Homo sapiens: one gene and its partner. The protein of the gene in region 2 purifies or fractionates together with the protein of the main gene of each other region. This does not show direct contact. Each region holds a gene or a part of one and is shown on either strand. Other genes may lie near its edges.

Region 1 (3,829 bases), on a different chromosome or scaffold from region 2:
ATAATCAGACCACAGAATAGCAGTATGAAATATAAAACTTTAGATATAAAGACAAAAGGTACAAAGTTTTAAATATTGAGCCCACCAAAATCCATAATCCATGTAACCCAGGACAATCCACTAAACCTAAGTTTCTCATAAACTTAAACCTCATTTTGCTCATCTGTAAAGTGGTGATGAATATCTTCCTGCAGGGTTATAGAAAAACGTAAATGAGCTAATACATGTAAAGTATACAGTGTCTGGCTTTACCCAAATATCAATTAAATAGTAAGTTCAGAGTTACAGTCTTTCTTGTAGTTTGAAAATTCTTAAAATTTCCGTAAGGTGATTTTTGAATACCCTAACATCAATTCTAAGTTTTCCTTCATTAAAAAAGAAAAATTGGCAAGGCTAAGGCAGGAGGATTGCTTTAGCTCAGGAGTTCAAAACCTCAACTCTACAAAAATTTTATTTAAAAATTAGCCAGGCACTGGTGGCATATGCCTGTGATCCCAGCTACTTGGGAGGCTGAGGCAGGAGGATCGCTTCAGCTCAGGAGGTTGACGCTGTGTTCATACCACTGCACTCCAGCATGGGTGAAAGACTGTCTCAACAACAACACAAAAATTAAAAAAAAAAAAAAGAAAAGAAAAGAAGAATGGTACTAAGGCTCAGTCTATAATAAAAGCTTCCTATTTTGGTTGCTACAGTACCTTCAAAATGTCTCCATGCACATGTAACTTTAGAAAAAGATAAATTGTGTATGCGGTATGTTCAATCTCTGCATGGTAAGACAGGTAATTCACTTCAATACTTTCCTGAATTTTTCAAAGTTTCTACAATGATCAGGGACTGCTACTTTTGAAACCAGAAATTTTTAATTGATGGTTCAGGCTTAAGTGTATAAAGACAGTTACTTCTCACCCACAGCAAGAAAATGCAAATTAAAAAGTACATTAGAATGCAATTTTTCACCTATTGGATTTGTAAAAATTCACGTTTTAATAGTTTCCCACGTGTTCTCCTACATGCTCATGGAAAGGTAAATTGATACGCTCCCTCTGGAAGGCTATCCAGCTTTCTGTATCACAATTACAAATGATCTTCTGACCCAGCAATTTCTGCTTCCTACAGAAACACTTGACCCATGCAAAACAACCATGGGAAACAGTCTAAATGTCTATCAACAGGGGTCTAGTTAATAATAGCCCATCCATGTTTAAAAAATATCCTAGCTATATTACAAATAACACACTAGTAACAGTGTTTAGTTCTATGGGAGGGAGGACGACTAGATGGACAAAAGTCACCGGTATAGACTTTATATTACTTTGGCATTTCATTTTTTGCATGGTTCAAAATACCATATTAAATACAAACGACAAAAATCTACCCCAGTGATTTCTCCACCCAAGTACCAGAAAACAAACTGTGGGTCCCTAAATCTGTACTGTCCGGGAGTCAAAATACCTCTGCCATACATAAGGTAACAAAATTTGAAAAGCGAGCACCACTATTTTCCCCTAGATTCAGGGGAGAGGTATTCTCTATAGGATTTCCACTCTGAAATTCAGAGTGCCAATTAAACATCAAATCAGCTATTCTTCAAGATGTTCTATAGGACAGACAAGGGAAATGACCACCAGAATCAAATATGCAACATTTGGTAAACTTAAACATAAATGAAATATGTACCATGGTATACAATAACTCACCTGTGTTGTTTTACCAGACCCAGTCTCACCAACCAGTACAAAGGACTGATGTCTAACCAGAATATCTGTAAACCTATCCTTGTATTCCCAAACAGGGAGCTGAAGACGTTTCTTTAGAATATCATAGTATCGAGGAGTATGGGGTAAGTTGGTGAACGGATTAATGCACTGTGGAAGTGACGTGTGACCTGCATGTCCGGCATGCGTTGAATGAGCAGAATGTGTTGAATGCGTTGAATGTGCTGAGTGGGTTGAGTGAGCTGAATGGGAAGCTTTCAAAGGTGGTAATCCAGCACTGATAAGCATAGCATTTGTTGAAGCTCGCAACTCCTTCTCCTTTTCTTTCTCCCTCTCTCGCTCTCTATCTCCTCTATCACGTTCTCGGTCTCGATCTTTAGACCGATCTTCACGATCCCGGTCTCGATCTCGATCCTTCCTAAAAACAAAAATTTAGAATTCAGATTCTGAATTTTATGCAGAATGTTCACGGTAGCGTTATAATCACAAAGAGAGTAAATGTCCAACGTTCAAATGAATAAAAAGTCCAATGGATTATGTAACTATCAGAAATAATAAAAAATACCCTACAATCAAGGGTTTCCCATTCTCCACCACAAACATCTTTCCCTTCCTTGCTGATGCCCCACCTTCCTTAACTTTTAACATTAGGTGAGGTAACACAAGAACTCAGTCTGCTGCAAGTAAAACCCCTCCTACTTAGACAACAGAAATCAGATACTGAGGGTAGGATGAAGAAAGGATAGGTCCAAATTGAGTAAAAGAAGATGGCATCTCAATCTTTCTCAAATTCTCCTTCAATTTGTGAAGAGGTATTTTGTGCACTAAAAGTATATTCAGAAGTTAGCACAAACACTGCTACTGGAGATAAAGACAACTCCACCTCACATCATTACAGTCAACAGTGGTGGGTTTTGCTCAATACTTTTATAATCCACTTCTAATAAATTACTTTAATATTCCTTTCTTTGCCATAGGACGATGTTCGGTTGTAATGCAAAGTGAAAAGAGCATAGTACAATGTTATACCTGTCAATATCTCAACTAATACAAATACGAATTACAGGACTGCAGAATTTGTTTTCTTAGTTATACTTTCCAGCACTTTCCCAATTTTGTTCAGTAAATGTATATTGCTTTATTAAAAAAACTGAAATTAAAACTTTTATTCCTTCTTGCTTGTTTACTCTTGCATTTTAACCTAAACAGCAACAGCAAAACACTGAAAGCACTCTATAAATCTATGTACCTTGGTCTACCATAAAATGAAACATAGCCAAATTAAAAATAAGCTTTGCTAAACACTATTAAGTTGTTTAACATGTTAAAATTATGCAGGTAGCCACTCTATTAAACCTGGGTCAATTTTAAGTAGTCAATGCTGGTATCTACTTCCAGTTACTAGAGATTGACCTTAATAAGTCATTTTAAAAGTATCTATGCTAAGAACTTCACAAGCAGAATGGCTGCAGGTTGTTCATATGCGTTGTGGCTGAAAGCAGCCTCTGGGAGACTGGTGGTGGGAATAAAATAAAATAATCTATGCTTGTTCATTTTACTAATCCAGTTTACTTCAGACCAAGTCCATCAGCAGAGAAATTTGCCTCAAGATCTTTAAACCCAGACTTGAAATAATGAGACATGACGGAGCTATGACACAAGCCCCGAAACATGTCATTGTTCCTTACCCACAATACACAAAAGTACAAATTCCCTGTGCTCCAAGTGCAGTTGTGTGACATGTACAAATTTACTCAAAAAGGGGAAAAGCCATATATATGCATATATAAACATGAAAAGTGATTTTCCCCTCTTCCATCCCAATGTTCACCTTCTACAAAAATCACAGAGCATACAAGCCAGAACTGTATGAAGCCTCTCATTTCACCTGGCATAAACAGAAAGAAAATCAATGGGAAAGAAAAGTCAAAGGATAACTTAATAAACATAAAATGAAGTCTCACAATTCAATACTTGAGAGTCTGGACCTATCTTCTGAAATATGCCATCAACTATCTTTGCTTCTCCTGCTTCTGGCCTAAGGTGACTGTTAATTAAGTGTTTACATTGCTCCAAAATGCCAACGAGGTGTAGTTTATAATAAGAGTACACAG
Region 2 (3,829 bases):
TGTGAGTCAATTAAACCTCTTTATAAATTACCTAGTCTCAAGTATGTCCCTATAACAGCGTGAGAATGAACTAATACAAATATGTAGGGATAAGATAAAATTAACAGAGCAAATACAGTGCATGACACTGTTCTGCATATTATGTCCTGATCAAGGGTACACATGGGCCTGCTCACAGTCCCACTTTATTAGAGTCATTTGAAATGCTGCAAATTTAGTCGTCAGGAAAATACAACAAAGGATATATTTAAAAATTAATTTAATGCTTGGCTAAATCTTAATTACATATATAATTATCAAACGATAGTCCTTAATTTCCAAAAAAATTCCTCTTTTGAAAATCACAGAATCAGAAAGCATAAACTTTAAAACAAGTTCTCTGAATATTTACAATGTGGTATAAACATTATAGAAGACCATGGATATTAAATTGCCTGGGTGTGGCTAATCAGCAAGGCGTATTCTTTATTGCATATTTAACTCACATATGTGGGATTTTAAATATGACAGACTACTAAAATTCAAATGCATGTATCTGCAAGCTGGGCAGGGAGTAAAATCATGAATGAGACAGGACGGTCAGCCCAAAACCATGCAATTAGGTTGTGGGTTTATTATTTTCAAAAGTGAAATTTCTATGTTCCATTTGAAACTATGTTGCATATTCATTTAGCATTCACATTAAACCCACATTTGACTCTAACGCTGATTCAAGGAAGAAAGTTCAACATTCACTCAATGACTAAGTCCACAACTCAACTCTCAATGTTAAGGCAGCACAGCTACAGTGATAGCAACGCTAACCAAAAGGTAATGAACATTTAGTCACTTGCCAGCCCTTTTGTTACAACAGTGTAGTAATTTCCCTAAGACAATTTGCTACCGGATAATTTTCTGCTGTTAAAAGGCTTCCTCTGTGGAAAAACACCACAAATTTCCAGTGTGAAAGTAAGTCCATGGTGGTATAAATATATATATGCATAATTACACAATTTACACTGCACACATCGTTTACAGGGGACAATTAACTGAGAGGGTTAATTTAAATGACCATACAAAATACTTCAGTAAACAAAGTATGACAGGCAGTAAAGAAAACATTCATAGACTCCTAGAAATAATCTGAATTCCTTTCATTCTGAAGAAATATCATTTAAGGACACAGTATTGAATATAATGTTTTTTGTATTAAAACAAGAATTGCTATTTTACAGTTTAAGAAACTTTACATATATACAAAATTTACACATTGGGAATGGTAATCAAGCAAATAGGTTTTTCAGTCTCATAGATCTATTTTCCTTCGATCAAAGACTTAAATTCTTTCACATTGTGGTCACTTGCAACAGACATAGCATGATCCAAAGCTCGAACACTTGCAAGGAGTTTTACTATCTGTTTTATGTTTTCCCTAAAAGAAAAAAATATAGCAGCATCTCATTAATTAGTATATCTAAGAGAAAATTTGCTACTGATTTCATGGCTATTTTAGAGCTTCTGCAATCAATTTTTCCAAGCACACATTTTCAAAGAAAGGAAACAGATATGCAAGCTACAGCATGTTAAAAAAAAAAAAGTTTACATTTATCCATATAGAACAAAACTTACATATGTTTAAATGACTAGCCCAGAGACAGGGGACCCATTTTAAAAAAGCAAAACAAAATTCATTGAGATCAATGAGTTTCATTAATATTGAGAAAGAAAAGAAAGCAATCTGTTTTCAAACTACTTCAGAGGCCTGTCTCCCATTCCTTCCCAAACCAGAGTCCTGGCTGTTTTAGCGTATACCTGGAACACAAATCGTTATTTGTGTCTCTTCATCACCAATCTGTCAAGATCCAGCATAATTTCCACTCCACCAAAATTCACTAAATAAAGTATAATCTGACTTTCCTTATCACTCCAGCTAGAAGTCATTCTGCTTTCTTACTAGGAAGTAATCCTCAAATTTTAGCACACATTAGAATTACCTAGAGGATTGTTGAAATGCAGATCATCCCTGGCCCCACCCCAAGAGTTCTATTCAAGAGGCCCAGAGTGGGGCCCCGAGAACTTGCAAGTCTATCAGACTCCCATGCCATGCTGATACTGCTGGTCCAGGGACCACACTTTAAGAATGACTGTTTTAACATTTAGCTTAAACCACTCACGAGAAACAAGACATAATATGACATTAGTAATTGTCTCATCTCTTCTACAGAATTGTAGTAAGCACCTATTAGGGAAGAATTAGAATTTGCAAAACTTTCCAACCCACATGAAACCTGCTTTATGTGCACTGCACAAAGCAGGTGCTTACATAGCTGTTAAAGTTCTTTTCTGTAGAAAAGTAAACACTATTTGTTGATATTTAACTTCCAAACAGAAACACTGTTAAATATATGTAAATCAAAGTTTAAAATGTGATAAAATTTATCTAGTAGAAAACACAGAGAAAAAAATATTAGTGCCAACAAATAACAAAATGGCACACACTAAGAACAAAATCAAATCAGCCAAAACCTGCCAAAGAATTTTACCATTAAAATCTTTTTTGTTGTTGTTTTTTGAGACGGAGTGTTGGTCTTTCACCAGGCTGGAATGCAGTGGCGCAATCTCAGCTCACTGCAACCTCTGCCTCCCAGGTTCAAGCAATTCCCCTGCCTCAGCCTCCCGAGTAGGTGGGACTATAGGCACGCACCACCACACCCAGCTAATTTTTGTATTTTTAGTAGAAACAGGGTTTCACCATGTTGGCCAGGATGGTCTCCATCTCCTGACCTCATGATCCACCTGCCTCAGCCTCCCAAAGTACTGGGATTACAGGCATGAGCCACCATGCCTGGCCTAAAATCTTTAATAGCTACTTTAATTTTATTGTGGAAAAAATATCCAATTTTCTTGCAGGAAAATAGGTCCTTTTTCAAGAAAGGGGAATGAGGGATCAGAAGAAGGTTTTGTTATAGGGGTATGACTAATGGTGTGATCTAAACAAAAATTAGACTTTGACATTATGAAGATATATGAAATTAAAATTTTAAAAAGACAATTCCTTCAAACTGCCCTACTTAGTGTTATTATTTACTTTTTATGCTAGAGATTTATCCCAGAATTACCTGAACACCCATAAATTAATGTCCACAGAAAGGCTAATGGTTCACTCACTCTTTTCTTACAACCCTTGATAAAAATTAGAAATAAGTTGCCCCAAAAAGCCATGAGTGATAACCTCTAGTTCATAATATTGATTAAAACAAAAAATCTCCCCAAATTGGGAGATAAACTTGAATTTAAATCTGCATAATGAAACTCCAAACAAGAGAGTCTGAGACCTCTCTAATTCTTCAAAGAGGGAGACAGAGAAAACAACCGTTTACTCACTCCCCTGAGGGTTGGTCCTTACCAGAAGTCTTTCCTTAGTATCTTCATAAATAACATACTGAAAAAAAGTAAAAACTGCTAAAATGAAAAATTATGTGCATTTTTGGTAGGTTTATAATACTAAGTGAACATACAATTTAAACTAAAATATAAACATCTCTACTTAAAACATTTTAATACTAAATCTGGCAACTAAACAACTCTAGATTACCATTTCATTAATTACAAAATTACCTTGCATTTCTTTTTTCCACATCAGAACACCCGATACTATTTCTATAAATTGTATCCGCTAAGTGTACAAGGTATCGGCAAAAGTTTTCTAACTGAGAAATAGTCCTTTCTCCTTTCAGATTCATGAACCATTGTTTGGGGAAACAATTGATTACCTGTGGAGAAGAAAGACGTAAAATAAAATAGTTAAGACAGAATAAATTAAAGTATTAAAAGCAAAGTCTAGTTAATG

What was found.
Region 1: the proteins of PAXBP1 (region 2) and DHX15 purify together in Homo sapiens (co-immunoprecipitation; one study listed by IntAct). This does not show direct contact.

What each region holds. Positions count from the first base shown.
Region 1 is NC_000004.12:24,574,546-24,578,374, forward strand, and holds part of DHX15 (ATP-dependent RNA helicase DHX15), read right to left. Parts: intron 2,134-3,829; coding exon 1,698-2,133; intron 1-1,697.
Region 2 is NC_000021.9:32,733,657-32,737,485, forward strand, and holds the end of PAXBP1 (PAX3- and PAX7-binding protein 1), read right to left. Parts: intron 3,753-3,829; coding exon 3,598-3,752; intron 1,412-3,597; coding exon 1,294-1,411; 3' UTR 243-1,293; downstream 1-242. UniProt on the Homo sapiens protein: Adapter protein linking the transcription factors PAX3 and PAX7 to the histone methylation machinery and involved in myogenesis.